4 linked regions of the Homo sapiens genome follow. The protein of the gene in region 4 interacts with the protein of the main gene of each other region in a pairwise test. Each region holds a gene or a part of one and is shown on either strand. Other genes may lie near its edges.

What was found.
Region 1: the proteins of EXOC7 (region 4) and BBS4 interact in a two-hybrid assay, tested with the Homo sapiens proteins (one study listed by BioGRID and IntAct).
Region 2: the proteins of EXOC7 (region 4) and ZC3H14 interact in a two-hybrid assay, tested with the Homo sapiens proteins (one large-scale study listed by BioGRID and IntAct).
Region 3: the proteins of EXOC7 (region 4) and PKNOX1 interact in a two-hybrid assay, tested with the Homo sapiens proteins (one large-scale study listed by BioGRID and IntAct).

The regions. Positions count from the first base shown.
Region 1 is NC_000015.10:72,730,784-72,734,795, reverse strand, and holds part of BBS4 (BBSome complex member BBS4), read right to left. Parts: intron 3,492-4,012; coding exon 3,339-3,491; intron 3,242-3,338; coding exon 3,070-3,241; intron 1-3,069.
Region 2 is NC_000014.9:88,569,462-88,573,473, reverse strand, and holds part of ZC3H14 (zinc finger CCCH domain-containing protein 14), read right to left. Parts: intron 2,391-4,012; coding exon 2,350-2,390; intron 1,445-2,349; coding exon 1,249-1,444; intron 897-1,248; coding exon 467-896; intron 1-466. UniProt on the Homo sapiens protein: RNA-binding protein involved in the biogenesis of circular RNAs (circRNAs), which are produced by back-splicing circularization of pre-mRNAs.
Region 3 is NC_000021.9:42,977,144-42,981,155, reverse strand, and holds part of PKNOX1 (homeobox protein PKNOX1), read right to left. Parts: intron 1-4,012. UniProt on the Homo sapiens protein: Activates transcription in the presence of PBX1A and HOXA1.
Region 4 is NC_000017.11:76,086,687-76,090,698, reverse strand, and holds part of EXOC7 (exocyst complex component 7), read left to right. Parts: intron 1-217; coding exon of another isoform or gene 218-370; intron 371-527; coding exon of another isoform or gene 528-655; exon of another isoform or gene 656-957; coding exon of another isoform or gene 958-1,024; intron 1,025-1,378; coding exon 1,379-1,524; intron 1,525-1,775; coding exon 1,776-1,928; intron 1,929-2,136; coding exon 2,137-2,235; intron 2,236-2,576; coding exon 2,577-2,639; intron 2,640-2,978; coding exon 2,979-3,045; intron 3,046-3,806; coding exon of another isoform or gene 3,807-3,845; intron 3,846-4,012. UniProt on the Homo sapiens protein: Component of the exocyst complex involved in the docking of exocytic vesicles with fusion sites on the plasma membrane.

The sequences.
Region 1 (4,012 bases), on a different chromosome or scaffold from region 4:
TCACTGCCTTACAAATCTGACCACATTACCATCCTACTTAGGAATCCTCACTGGCCCCCCACATCTATAACCATGATCTTTACACTTTCATTTAGCAGTAAAACACTCCCCCCACTTTTTAAAATCAGTATTTCCTTGACACCTAATATATAAAACAAAAACAGCTGCTCTGGAAGCCCTGCCCATTCCACCTCCCCACCAGCTATGCACTCACTCCTACCAGGCACCTAAGAGGAGATCTAGGAAGACAGCTGGACAAACATGGCCTCTAAGATAAAGTCCTTGCACTGTACGCATGACCTCCATAATCTGACCCCAGAATATCTTTCCTGATTCATCTCCCATCATATTCTCTAACACTAACCCCCACTAACAGCAAGGGACACTGCAGTTTCATGGCTGCATGCCTTTCTTCACAGTGGCTCCTCAGCCATTCTGTGCTATTCCATTTTAGCTTGTTGTTCAGGATCCAGTTTGAATGCCATCTCTACTTTGTAAAGTTAGCATCGCTGTTATCTCTTACATTATGGCTGTTTACATTTCTGTGTTCCATTAGAACCCAGCTATCTAAAGAAACTATCAACACAGTAAACAGACAATGTACAAAATGGGAGAAAATATTTGCAAACCATGCAGGTCTAATATCCAGGATCTATAAGGAACTTAAGCAAATTTACAAGAAGAATACAATCCCATTAAAATGGGCAAAGGACATAAACAGACACTTCAAAAGAAGTCATGTATGCAGCCAACAAGCATATGAAAAACTCTATCACTGATTAGAGAAATGCAAATTGAAACCACAGTGAGATAACCATCTCACACCAGTCAAAATGGCTATTATTAAAAACTCAAAATATAACATCCTGGTGAGGCTGCAGAGAAAAGGGAATGCTTATACACTGTTGATGGGAGTGTAAATTAGTTCAACCATTGTGGAAAGCAATCTGGCAATTCCCCAAAGAGCTAAAAATACAACTACCCTTCGACCCAGCAATCCCATTACTGGGTATATGCCCAAAGGAATGTAAATCGTTCTGCCATAAAGACACATGCATGTGTGTGTTCAATGCAGCACTATTCACAATAGCAAAGATGTGAAATCAACCTAAATGCCCATCAATGGTAGACTGGATAAACAAAATGTAAATGTACACCATGGAATACGACACAGCCATACAAAAGAACAAGATCGTGTCCTTTGCAGCAACATAGATGGAGCTGGAGGCCACCATCCTTAGCAAATTAATAAAGGATAGAAAACCAAATCCTGCATGTTCTCACTATAAGAGCTAAATGATGAGAACACATGGAGACACAGAGGGAAACAGACACTGGAGCTTACTGGAGGAGGGGGAGGGCCAGAAAAAAATAACTATTGGGTACTAGGCTTAGTACCTGGGTGATGAAATAATCTGTACAACTAATCCCCATGACACACGTGCCTGTGTAACAGGATGCACATGTACCCCTGAACCTAAAATAAAATTTTTAAAAAAAGAGAGAGGAATGGAGTCTCACTGTGTTGCCCAGGCTGTACTCCCAACTCCTGGGCTTAAGCAAACTTCCTGCCTTAGCCTCCCAAGTAGCCAGCACTACAGGTATGTACCATCACACCCCACTTTAGCCTTTTTATTCTGATGTTTTGACATCTGGGGCCTTACTGACCCTGGGGAGACTGTCCCTCCCACAGTCAGCTAATTCCTAGATATAACCCCTACAAGAGTACCTTCTGTATGCAGACCGACCAACCCAGTGTTCATATTCTTAACTGCCTCCTTTACTGGGCCCTGACACTGGGCCAATATTCCCTAGTCCTAGTCACCCGAGGGTCAGGTACCAGACACCTAGAGACAGCCCTATAGCCCAGAGCCCACTGAAATTATTCAAACTGGCCAATCCCCAACCTGGTTAACCTGCTTTCCCGGTCTTGCCCCGGGGAGGGCATTTCTACCCATGAAAACTACAATAAAGAATTGTGCCCACATTTACCCCTTGCTCCCTCTACCTCCTGATTGACCTGGTGCTTCCCCATGTGGCCCTGCACGGTGTAGCATGCCCTCCTTCTCAGGAATTGTAACAGACTATCTTTCCAGTGGCAGATGTCTTCTGATCTGTTGCCCATACCATATCTGAATAATAATAAAACCTATGTTTTTTTTTTAAAGTTATCTTTGTATTCAGGCAACCCTCAAATAACCACAATTGCTTTTGCAAGCTTTCTCTTTTAAATAAGAACCCACAGTAATGAACAAAAAGCCACTGGAAGACGACTGCCAAATGAGGACATGGAAATCTGCTTTGGGTCTTACATTTAGTAAGTAAATGTATATGGAGAAAAAAATTCCTAGAAAGACTAGTCAGTACTTTAAAATGGTTGTGCATAATTGTTAAAGTGTTTGATTAATTTTAACTTATTTTTATGATCAATTTTAGTATTTGCATGGCATAAAATGGAGTTTCAGGAAGAGAATGGCATTCTATATAACATGCTCAGAAGAGATAAGGGTTTCAACATAAGGTAGCTTGACTTGGAAGTATCACCTAGGGGCCAATTATAGTAACAACAATATTGATAATAATAGACCAATTATATAACCACAGTAAAACCAACAGTTTTCAAAAATCAGTATTTCAACAAAACCAGTATTATTAATTGAGAGCTTAATCATGCAATCCTCACATCAGCCCTAGGTACATATAATAAGTAGTAGAGGCAGGACCCTACCTAAAACCCAAGCTCTTAACACTTGCTGTCTGGAACTTAGTTGGACTCAATATATACATAAATGAATTGTCAAGGCAAGAGGAAAAAACTGGTAAAAGGTGAACTAGGGATGATCTTTATTTAACCTGTTGGTCTCTGAGTCAAACTCCCCCAAGTTAGAAACAACCAAGTTCCTTTGTCATCTTTTTCTATTTCTTCAAGCTCCAGGACAGTAATCCAGATTCCTACAGGATCTCTAAGGGAATGGCTCCTATGAGACAGCCACTGATCTTCTATGATTCTAATCCATTTTTCCCTCATTACAGATGGCAGAGAGAGTTTTCCACATAAATGTTTCTTACCTGCCAAGAGCATGTAGAGCTCCCCCATCTTTGGCTGGAAGTTGATGGCCGCACTGAGAAAATGAAAAGCTGATGCATACTGCTGCATGGTCAAATGGACAAGGCCCAAATTATACAGAATCTTCCAATCAAAGGGTGCCAAGTAGTTGGCTCGTTTCAGGCAGCTGATGGCCTATGAGAGAGAAGGGGCACTCAATGAGAAGGGCAAGCTAAACAGACCCAATAACCACATGTAGAAATACAAACAAAGAACATGAGGGGACACTCACCGCCACATATTTCTTCTTGCCAAAGAAACACATTCCAATGTTATTCCAGAGTGGAGGACTTTCTGGAACAGCACAAGCCACAACTCTGTATTTGGTGAGGGCAACATCAAAGTCCCCGTGGGTCTGCATCATGCTGCCTGCTGCCAAGATGGCCTGAAAACATGGCACAGAGAAAGTCATTCAGTCATTCCCAAAAGGCTGTAGCAGTGGGGCAGCTTTCCTGAGTCTATACTCAGCAGGCCCATCAGCATAGATGGGACTGGAAAATTTCTTCCAGGGACATAAATATATCCAACCTATTGGGACAAATGTTCCTGAGGAATGTCCTTGCACTCTACACTGTGGCTCTCTGGCACAGCACAAAAAAAAAAAAAAAAAAAAAAAAAAAAAAAGATAAAATGTTACTTGCTTTACCCATCTGTTTCCTACTTCTAGCCAGGAAAGTCAGTATTTCAGAATGAATACCAGAGCCCTTTAAGTAAAAACTTCCTTTAATCTGTTCTCTGCAGCCCCTATTTGGTATACCAAGTGTTCTAGATACCTGAAATACACCTGTACGTGGCTACTTAAGGTAAATTTCTTTCTACCGTAGAACAGAGGGCGAGTCAGCTTTAGGCTTCATCAGCCCAGCCCTTTCATTTCTCTAAGGAAAGGTATCAAGGTGGGAGCTGACA
Region 2 (4,012 bases), on a different chromosome or scaffold from region 4:
CAACAAGAGTGAAACTCCTTCTCAAAAAGTAAAATAAAATAAAATAAATTTGGAATATGTGTTTTTTTTGTTTTTTGTTTTTTCTTTTTTGGTTGAGACGGAGTCTCGCTCTGTTGCCCAGGCTGGAGTGCAGTGGCACGATCTTGGCTCAGTGCAAGCTCCGCCTCCCAGGTTCACGCCATTCTCCTGCCTCAGCCTCCCGAGTAGCTGGGACTACAGGCGCCTGCCACCATGCCTGGCTAATTTTTTGTATTTTTAGTAGAGACGGGGTTTCACCGTGTTAGCCAGGATGGTCTCAATCTCCTGACCTCGTGATCCACCCGCCTCGGCCTCCCAAAGTCCTGGGATTACAGGTGTGAGCCACTGTGCCCAGCCTTGGAATATGTGTTTAGTTACTTCATATATTATTTGGTATCAAGAACTGCCGATTTTTAGCCTAAGCCAGAATTTAAAAGTACATACAAACCTCCATACTCATTTTCTCCGAGTTGTTTCTAAAGAACGGACTATACGTTTCTTCTAAGCTGTTAAGCACCTCTGGTTCACACAAACGTCCTGTTTCATATACCCAACTACTCTGCATATCAAGCTGCTTGGCAGCATGAATACTATTCTGCTGCTGTTGAAATTGCAACCTGTTTAAATGAACACCACTATCTGCATTTCTACTTGCAGGTGGTCGATAAATTTCAATAGAAGGGCGAGAAGAACCATATGTAAGTGTCACTGTAGGTTTTTTCTGAGATAAGGGATTCTCCTGCACAAAGTTGAGGTCTTCGTCAATGAGATCATCTGGTTCTGGCTTAATATCAATCACATCTTCAGAGGGTGCTGGCTCCCTCAAAGGTTTCACTGTTGACATTAGTCGGGTTGCAGCTCCATCATCGTAAGTCTGTCTATTTAAAAGAACAACAAAATGTATTACAGCCAAATTAGGGCAATTATCACCAAATCTTTAAAGAATGTTTACTTGAAAAATTTCAATGAAAAAACTGAGGATACTCCCTTTACATATTCCATTCAAAACTGCTTTGAAATTGCACTTTCTTTCAACTTTGATTTACTAAATTTGTGATAAAAGATAATCATACTTAGATCTTATCCATTATTTTATTCAAAAAACTACTCACGATCACTTCATTGTTTCTAAAAATTGCTGAGAACAGCAAACTGAAAGATATAAAAACTAATATAAATGTCACATACACAGAGCCATCTGCCCCCAGCAGGTCTACACCAGACTCTTACCTGACATTTGTGGTTTTTGACTCCTGCGAACTTGTAGAAACTCTGGAATCTCTTTTTTCAGGTCTCGCGCTAGGAATGGCAAGTGGTGGCACTGCAGCTTCATGCCTCCTCTCATCTCCCCGACTGAAATTGCTCTTGTTTGAAGGCACGTTACTATCAAAGATGTTGGTATCAGAAGACTTCAGACTAGAGGGTTCTGAAAAGAAAAATACAGTCCTTTTAATCTATTTTTATTTCTTATTTTTATTTATTTATTTATTTTTGAGATGGAGTCTCGCTCTGTCGCCAGGCTGGAGGGCAGTGGCGCGTTCTCGGCTCCCTGCAACCTCCAAATCCCTGGTTCAAGCGATTCTCCTGCCCCGGCCTCCCAAGTAGCTGGGATTACAGGCATGTGCCACGATGCCTGGCTAATTTTTGTATTTTTAGTAGAGACGGAGATTCACCATGTTGGTTGGCCAAGATGGTCTCCATCTCCTGAGCCCATGATCCGCCCACCTTGGCCTCCCAAAATGCTGGGATTACAGGCGTGAGCCACCGTGCCCGGCCATCTATTTTTATTACTTTAAGTCGTTTCCTTCCTCATCACCAATTCAAAAGCAGTATGTTTATTGTAGAAAATTTTAAAAATATAATAAAAATCACCAATTATCTCAAAGGTGATTTTTCGGGGGAAGAGCATATATACACATTTTTTAAAACATGTATCTTATGCGTGTATATTCTGTTATTCTTCCACAACATTATTTTTAATAGTTAAATATTATTCCACACATGGTAATACAACAATTTCGTTTATTATGACTGAACTTTTAAATTGTTTTCAATTATAAAATACTGAAATATCCTTGAGGCTAAATCTTTGCACATATATGTAATTATTTCCTTCGGATAAAGTGCACTGCTCCCTCTCCCACACTTAAATTATCTTTGAATTATGTTAAATTTACTGCTCTTAAGTTCATAAAAGTATGTGCTTTCTAAAAAAGTTCAAATGAACCGTTTTGAAATTGATGGGTTTTTCCCAAAGCACTATGACTTTAGAAAGAAACAAATCATATGCCATAGCAAGCAGAAATTAAAAAAAAAAGTTATGAATCTTACCAGTTGTAACAGAGCGAAGTTTATCTAATACACCATGAAGCCTGAGGAAAAAAACAAAAAACAAAAATAAACCTTCTGTTAAGAAAGATTTCATTTCAACTGTCACTCTAAATTTATGACATTATATTCAGAGATAATTTTTTAAATTTTTTTATATTTTTATTATTTTTAAATAGAGATGGGGTTTCACTGTGTTGTCCAGGCTGGTCTTGAAGTCCTGGACTTGAGAGAACCACCTGCCTCAGCCTCCCAAAGTGTTGAGATTACGGGCGTGAGCCACCGCACCTAGCTGAGATAAATACTGATAAACTGTATTTAGTGAATAAATGGTATGAACTTTCAAACTTCACATTTTTAAAAAAGGGCTTTGTATAAATCCTACAGAAGTCAATAAAAAATTGTATTTTTTTCTTCACTGTTTTCAACATCTAGCCTCTGCAAAAATATGGGAAAGAATATCATCTGACCAGTCTTAGTCTACAAAATATGTCACCCTGTTTGTAAGTACTAAAGATTTACTGTAGCTTACAGTAAAACAAGTATCATAAACATGTAATATTGCTTATTATTACCACCATTTAAGCAGCTTATATTAACTGCTTAAACTAGATGGTGTCTTGGACAACTTAATTCTGAGAGGTTAAAACAAGTTATAATCTCAAACTATGCTATATCATTTCACTCTATTACTTTCAAAACTGATGCTGTAAGGCTGTAATCTTGCTTGTAACATAACCTGTTTTGGTAGTTATAAATGAGGTACTTTGCCTTACATCCCTTCCCAGTACCTCTCAAAATATGCCAGAAACCTCATGTTTCAATGAGAACCCTAGTCACATGCTACTGTCCCCACGGACACAATTACTTCAAGGCTCCAAATAATCACAATAGTCTGTTTGGGGCTGGTGTTAATGAACACTAACTTAAGAAAGCAAAGTGCCAAAATGGGGACATCACCCTTTGCTTCACTACATGTTAAAGAACTCAATTTATGGCCAGATGAGAATGTTGAATTAATTTGGTTTTAAATTCATTTGGTAGTCTGTTTTAAAAATCTAAGTATTCTATCAAGTTATCGGAGAAAAGGATCTACTCGGTCGCTTTAGAAAAAAAAATAGTACTCACAATAATGGTAATTTTCCCAGTCAAAAGACCCACAGTCTTTTTTTGTGGGGGGCTGGGAGGGAATAACCTCTGGGGACAAATTGTAACAAATGGGTTGGGTCACCCACAGTGAGGCAGCAGTGTATCATAACAACTGATGACCACTATACAATGTTCTTCAAATTTGTGCAATGTATAAACCCAGAGAATTCTGTGCAGAATTTCAAGACGGTTGATAAGCATACAGTTGCCTACTTGGGCAAAAACACCTTGAAGACGACCTTTGGTATAAAGGCAAGAACTTAACCAGGCTCATCTCCCCACTCAGTGCCTCCTCTTGCACTCAAATTCGGCAGGCCACTTGCTCACTTCTGCTACATCATCACCTTTCACGGTAACTGGTAGTTCCTAGCCTGAGAAGCCTAATAAAGTATTTCGTCTGTCTATTCTCAGCTACATCATTATCCTCCAGCCCTCATCCTCACTTTACCTCAAACCTGGTACCAGGACCTAGCATCTTAAGTTGAATCTTACTCTTCTAGTCAGTATTCTCAACTAA
Region 3 (4,012 bases), on a different chromosome or scaffold from region 4:
GTACACAAGACAGAACCATGAGGTATCCACTCAGTGCTGCACACGGATGCAAGATGGTACTTCCCAGGGCCTGCAGCCACTTCCTTCACCCTCACCTCCAAGGACACACACTGTTAGGCTTTGGGTTCCCCTATCTGTGCCGTTTTTATTTCCTTGTCTCTTTTGTCATCAATATAATCATTTGAGGAAGTAAAGAAAGGACACCATATATTCCTACAAATGGATAGGCTGAGAGTAAATCAACTTGGTATTTGTGAACATGAATGATAAAAGGCAAAAACTTCTAGCTGAAATGTAGCACTCCTTCAATTACAAAGGCAGACAATAAGCCCTGGAGTTTTAGCAGGAACAGCAACAGGTATTTTCCAAAGCATTAGAGTGTCACAAAAAATCTCGTCACTACTCCCAAATGAATTACCAGAGCCACAGCTCAATCCGGTTACTAAGCTAATAAATGGGACTATCACCAATTTGGTTCAATACAGTATTTTAATAACTGTATTTCAAAATAATTTGTTCTCTTCTTCATCTATTTATTTCCTTTAAAGTGCTGTTAAGAGGCCCCCAGAGGCCAAGCAAACGTGAAAATTTAAGACGCCCCCTCTCCCACCAGAGTCTATACTTTGCATCACTTTAGCAGTTTCAGGCTGTCCTTCTAAACAGTTTCAGACACTTTTAACAATTTGCAACAAAAGTGTAAGCCGCAAATAGGATGTTACTTCTCATAAGTAGCACCTTTCTATTTCTGCTATTTACAAGTAGTATTTTTTTTTCTCTTTTTTCGGACATGGAGTCTTGCTCTGTCGCCCAGCCTGAAGTGCACTGGAGCGATCTCAGCTCACTGCAACCTCCACCTCCTGGTTCAAGTGATTCTCCTGCCTCAGCCTCCCGAGTAGCTGGGGATACAGGCTCCTGCCACCACACCCAGCTAATTTTGCATTTTTAGTAGAGACAGGGGTTGCCCCATCTTGGCCAGGCTGGTCTCAAACTCCTGACCTCAGGCAATCCACCCACCTCGGCCTCCCAAAGCGCTAGGATTACAGGTGTGAGCCACCGCACCTGGCCTCACAAGTAGTACTTTTCTAAAGTTACTGCCAGAGAAACGTTAACTACATATAGAGTACAGGAATCCCAACAAAATGCATTGTACTCAGTATCATTACCACAGAACCTGCTGGCACTTAGATCATAAGCGCAGAAGGTTAATCTTTGAAACAAGTCATACTTCACTGACCATGTTTCATCAATTCTAAGGCACACTTTTAAATGTCTGAAGTGAAAAGCATCCTTCACTGATGGGGTAAGAAAGCAGCGTGCCAGAAGGCACTGGGAGCATCTGTAGTGGTATAACACACTGCTGCATTTTAGATTCAACAGACTATAAGCACCTCATTTTTCTTTTTTCTTTTTTTCTGAGATGGAGTCTCGCTGTGTCACCCAGGCTGGAGTGCAGTGGCGCGATCTCGGCTCACTGCAAGCTCCGCCCCCTGGGTTCACGCCATTCTCCTGCCTTAGCCTCCCAAGTGGCTGAGAATACAGGTGCCCGCCACTACGCCCAGCTAATTCTTTGTATATTTAGTAGAGACGGGGTTTCACAGTGTTAGCCAGGATGGTCTCGATCTCCTGACCTCGTGATCCACCCGCCTCGGCCTCCCAAAGTGCTGGGATTACAGGCGTCAGCCACTGCGCCTGGCTATAAGCACCTCATTTTACCTTTTATTGTGTTTTGCTTTATTGCACTCAGCAGGTACTATGTTTTTCACAAGTTGAAGATCTGTGGCAACCCTGTATGAAGAAAGCAAGCCTATTGGTGCCAATTTTCCAAAAACAGGAGCTCACTTTGTGTCTGTGTTACATTTTGGTAATTCTTCACTATTTCAAACTTTGTCATTATTATGTCTGTTACGGGGATCTGTGATCAGTGATCTTTGATGTTCAGGTCAGGAACAGTGATTCATATGGGTAATCCCAACACTTCGGAAGGACGAGGCAGGAAGGCGGCTTGAAAGGATTCACCATTCTGGAAAGGAACTTAAGAGACAGCCGAGGCAACATAATGAGACCTCACTTCTACAAAACTTTTTCAAAATTAGCTGGGCATGCTGGCACATCCCTGTAGTCCCAGTTACTCAGGGGGCTGAGGTGGGAGAACCACTTTAGCCCAAGAGGTCAAGAGTGCAGTGAGCTATGATCTCACCACTGCATCCCAACCTGAGCAACAGAATGAGACCCTGTCTCTCAAAAACATAGCCAAGGCCAGGAACAGTGGATCATGCCTGAGGCTGAGGCAGGAGGACCACTTGAGGCCAGGAGTTTGAGACCTGCCTGGATAACATAGGGAGACTTCATCTCTTTAAAAAAAAACAAAAAAGGGCTGGGTGCGGTGGCTCATGCCTGTAATCCCAGTACTCTGGGAGGCCAAGGTGGGTGGATTATTTGAGGTCAGGAGTTCAAGACCAGCCTGGCCAATACGGCGAAACCCTGTCTCTACTAAAAATACAAAAATTAGCCGGGCGTGGTGGCTCACGTCTGTAGTCCCAACTACTTGGTAGGCTGAGGCAAGAGAATCACTTGAACCCGGGAGGCAGAGGTTGCAGTGAGCCAAGATCGCGCCACTGCACTCTAGCCTGGGCGACAGAGCGACTCCATCTCAAAAAAAAAAAAAAAAAGAAAAGAAAAGAAAAAAACAAGTTAGCCAAGTTGTAAATGCAAAGCAGAAGTTTCTTTCCAATTTTTGAAATTAAAAAAATACATACACAAATTTTTGAAATTTTAAATCACCTCTCAGAACAAAGGAAAACTTAAAGGCAATTAAAAAGTGCTACTCCAGTGAACACATGAATAAGAAAATGGCCAGGTCCGTTGGCTCACACCTGTAATCCCAACACTTTGGGAGGCCAAGGCGGGCGGATCACTTGAGGTCAGGAGTTCGAGACCAGCCTGGTCAACATGGTGAAACCTTACCTCTACTAATAATACAAAAATTAGCTGGACACATGCTGCACACCTGTTATCCCAGCTACTCGGGAGGTTGAGGCAAGAGAATTGCTTGCACCCAGGAGGCAGAGGTTGCAGTGAGCCATGATCATACCACTGCACTCCAACCTGGGCAATAGTCTCAAAAAAAGAGGGAGGGAGGGAAAGAAAGTGAAACAGCCTTATTGGTGATATGTGGAAAGTATGAGTGGTCTGATTAGATCAAACCAGCCACAACATTCCCTTAAACTGAAGCCTAATCGAGAACCAGGCCCAAGTTTTCTTCAATTCTATGAAGGCTGAGAGAGGTGAGGAAGATGCAGAAGAAAAGTTGGAGCCAGGCACGGCAGCTCACCCCTGTAATCCCAGCACTTTGAGAGGCTGAGGCAGGTGGATCACCTGAGGTCAGAAGTCCCAGCCTAGCTAACATTTAGTAGAGCCCGTCTCTACTAAAAATACAAAAAATTAGCTGTATGTGGTGGCAGCTGCCTGTACTCCCAGCTACTACGGAGGCTGAGGCAGGAGAATCGCTTGAACCCGGGAGGTGGAGGTTGCAGTGAGCCGAGATCACGCCATTGCTCTCCAGCTTGGGCAACAAGAGTGAAAATCCATCTCAAAAAAAAAAAAAAAAAAAAAAAAAAAGTTGGAAGCAGCAGAGGCTGGTTCATGAGGTTTAAGGAAAGAAGCTGTCCCCATAACACGAAAGTACAAGGTGAAGCAGCAAGTGCTACCTAACAGAAAAGCAACACCAGGTTATCCAGGTCTAGCTAAGATCATTGATGAAGGCAGCGAGACGAAAAAGCAGATTTTCAATATAGACAAAAGACTTCCTTTGGAAGGAGATGACATCTAGGACTTTCATACCTAGAGAGAACTCAGTGCTTAGTTTCAAAGGGCAAGCTGGCTCTCTTGTTAGGGGCAAATGTCACTGGTGACTTTAAGCTGAAGCCAGTGGTCTTTGACCATTCTGAAAATCCTAGGGTTCTGAAGAATTATGTTACGTCTACTCTTGCCTGTGCTCTGGAAATGGAATAAC
Region 4 (4,012 bases):
CCAAGCATCAGCTCTTCAGCCCCTCCTTGGTCCTTCTCCGCTTTCCCTGGGCCTCCAGGCTCGGGGAAATGAGCAGCTAAGGACGGTCCTGGGTGCTCACTGAAGTCAGGCTTGAAACGGCTGTTCCCAAGGTGGCTTGAGGTAGAGGAGGGGCTCAGGGCCCTCTCCGATGCCCCCTTCCCCATCCCCATCTGACGTCCCCCTCCTGGAGATGAAGGGCTTCTTCCCTGTACCCCAAGGGGCGGCCTGCCTGGCCCCTGGATAAACGCTGCTTGTGTTTGTGCGGCCGACATCTCGCCAGGTCACGAGCATGATTTCCGAGTTAAGCACCTGTCCGAGGCCTTGAACGACAAGCACGGGCCGCTGGCCGGTGAGTACCGCAGCCCAGCCCGAGGGCAGCCGCTGACACTGCCTTCGCAGCGGTCCCCGGATGGCCTGCTCCTGCCTGGCCCAGCTGGGCCCACTCTGCTCTGAGGATGGGCCAGGCCTATGCGCCTCTCTCTCCACTCTCTCTCTTTTGGGCCTAGGTCTCCTTGCCTCTCTCCAGATGGGAGTGCGTGCCTGTCTGTCAGGCCTGGGCCAAGGGGAGAAGCCGCTGCTCCTCGGAAAGCAGGCAGAGAGGGAAGGTGGCTCCCTTGAGGGCAGGGAGCCCTGACGTCCGCCTCCTGCAACAATTCAGAGCTCTGATCCCCTCGGAGCCCATCCCTTGGCACATAGGACCAGGCAGTTCTGCCGCCGGTTTTGCCTGCAGGCGCCCCCGCCGTGGCCTCCAGTAATAGGGTCTGGCCTCCTCCTGGGGCAGCTGGCAACCCCTCCTCTCTGGGACTTACCAGCCTCTTAGATTTTGACCCCATGCCAGCCAGCCTCAGAAGCTGCAGCCAACCACCCTCTTAGATGTTCCAGAAGCCCTGACTGGGCTGGTCACTTCCTTCACAGGCCCCGCATTTGCCCACATGGATGACCCCAGTGCCAGCCTCCTTGAGGTGGCACAGCCACCTGCCCACCCTGGGCTGCCCTCTTTCAGGTACAACTCAGAATGCTCAGTCCTGGGGTCAAACCACCTTATCCAGGACGCTGATTCAGGAATCTTCCCTCCTTATCTTTCCATCCGTCACTCTCCTGCCTCTGGTGTCTGATCCCACTGTCTGCGCAGAGCCGAGAATGAAGCCAGAACAAAGGCTGGGCTCAGCTCCTTTTATTCCCCTCGAACCTGGCGGGGCCTGCTGGCTCCCTTGCAGCTTTCTGCCAGAACAGTCAGCCTCTTCCCCATCCTCTGCCAGTGTGGGGTACAGGCCAGGAGCTGGGGGACCCACGCCGCCCCCAGCCAGGAGTGTGGCTGGCCCCAGACCAGCAGCTCAAGAGTTGTGCCATCCCCCAGGGAGAGATGACATGCTGGACGTGGAGACCGATGCCTACATCCACTGCGTCAGTGCCTTCGTCAAGCTGGCGCAGAGCGAGTACCAGCTGCTGGCCGACATCATCCCCGAGCACCACCAGAAGAAGACCTTCGACTCCCTGATACAGGTCCCGCCCCGCCCCGGGGGCTCTGCAGCCAGCCCCAGCAAGAGCTGTCACAACAGACTCTTGCAGCCCTCAACTCCACCCACCACCACCACCTCGTGCCCTGGGGACCGGTCCTGGGTGGACGCTCACCACCTCCCCGTCACCCCTCTTCCTGCACACTGGCCCCCCTACATACTGCAAGGATCCCCCACTAGCCCAGAACTAGCTCCCACCGCCCCACCCTTCCCTGAACTGTCTCCCTGCCCCCTCAGGATGCCCTGGATGGGCTGATGCTTGAAGGGGAGAACATCGTGTCTGCTGCCCGGAAGGCCATTGTGCGACACGACTTCTCCACGGTGCTCACCGTCTTCCCCATCCTGCGACACCTCAAGCAGACCAAGCCTGAGTTTGACCAGGTGCTCCAGGTATGTGGGCGAGGGGCCCTCAAAAACACAGCCAGGAGGCATCGTGCTGCCGGGTGTGGCCGCCCCATCCCTCCCTGGGAGAACCCCATTCTCTGTCCCACACTTCTGCTCTGAAGGTGCATGGAAGCAGCTTAGGAAGGGCCCTGGGTGAGTGAGATGCTCACAGAGCGACTGGAGGTGAGCTGGGGGCTCCCCTGTGCTTCCTCAGGGCACGGCTGCCAGCACAAAGAACAAGCTGCCTGGCCTCATCACATCCATGGAGACCATCGGTGCCAAAGCGCTGGAGGACTTCGCAGACAACATCAAGGTCCCTGCTGTCCTCCCCTTTCTCCCTCCCTCCCGGCCCAGCACCACAGTGACCTGGCCCTGGGGGACTCTCAGAGCAGGCCTCCAAGAGGGTGCGTTGTCCCGGGGCAGCCAGCTGCGCCACTGGCCTGTCAGCACCCATGTGCCTTCCTTTCCTTCCTGGGGCCTCCAAGCCCTCTGAAGTGGGAAGGGCCTCTCCCCCTTGGTCCAGCCTGGCTCAGCCTTTGTGCCTGAGAGGTGTCCTAGCACCCGTCTGCCAGGAGGCGGCACCATGAGCAGGTGCACTGGGGCATGGGGTGGGCTGGGGGCTGCTTCAGGGAACCAGAGGCTGTTTTTCCACAGAATGACCCGGACAAGGAGTACAACATGCCGAAGGACGGCACCGTACACGAGCTCACCAGCAATGTGGGTGCTGCCTGAGGACACCAGGGAGAGGGGAGGAAGGAGGGCCCAGGCCCAGGCCCAGGGCCAGGCAGAGTACTGGTGGAAGGGACTCAGCCTGGCCCAGAGCCGCTCGCACCTTTGTGAGCAGTCCTGGGTGGCAGGATGGACAGTGACATGTTTAGTGTCTCTAGCAGACAGGGCCTTTCCTGGCAGGCTAGAGTGAAAATGAAGTTTCCAGCCGCGCTCTTCACTGGGCGGATCCCAGCCCTGGGCTGGCCCTGGGCACTCAGAGGGGTCGCTGTGGGAGGCCGTCGGCCGGGCCTGCCACTTGCCCTTCTGCACCGTTTTCTTCCCACCCAGGCCATCCTCTTCCTGCAGCAGCTTTTGGACTTCCAGGAGACGGCAGGCGCCATGCTGGCCTCCCAAGGTACTGGTACCTCCCAGTTGGGCCCCCTGCCCCACTCGCCTCCTTGCCTGGAGACATGGGGTTAGAGGGCAGGTAGCAGTGAGGAGGTATCTCCAGTCTGTGGAGGGGTTGAGGTGTGCTCAGCAGAGGGTCCCTGGGGCTGAGCATCAGGAGAGCAAGGTTTGCCTGCACCTTTCAAGACCAGACACTGGACCTCTGGCCCCTCCCTCAGCCCCTTTGACCGTCCTCGCCCTGGAAGCAGTGTCCTCACTCTGGGAGCGGTGCTGGTTGGTTGGAAGGTGTCCTTTCTGCCCCTGCCCCCCTCCCAAATCCTTCTCTCGTGTCTGCCTGCTCTCCTAATCAGGCTCGCTCAGCTGGCCTTCAGAGGGTAGCAAGTGTCTCAGGGCCCGCTGGGCGTCTTCCTGCTGGCCCTGCCCTGGGACTGGAGCTCAGGGGGTTGGCCTGTAAGCAAGAGCACCTTTCTGGGTCATTCCAAGCACTGAGGTCCCTGGGCCCTCTCCTCCCGTCCCATTTTGGGGGCAAGGAGCCTGTGGGCAGCCTCCAGCCTGCAGTTCTCAGCTCTCTACTTTCCAGGGTGTTCCCTGGTCCTCAGAGGGTCCCGCCTGCTGTGTCTTGCTATCTGTGTTTTGGCTGTCGTGGGGAGAGGTCTGCTTAATTCGGGTTGACATGCCGTTTCTAACCTGTTTTTTGCACTTTGCATCTTTCTCCCTCCTTTGTCTCTCCCTCTGTCCCCTCTGTGTGCACTGCCTTTCACTCCGTAGTTCTTGGGGACACATACAATATTCCTTTAGACCCCCGAGGTAAGCAGTGCGGTTCTGCAGCCCCCTCCTGTCCCTCTGAAGCTTGGTGGGTGAGGTTCCCTGGGGACTGACTCTCAGTACCTACTGGGGAGCCTGAGTCAGAGGGGACATGAGTTTTCTCGGGGTGCTCTCAACTCTCTCTGCTCCCTTCAAGGCCACTCTGTCTC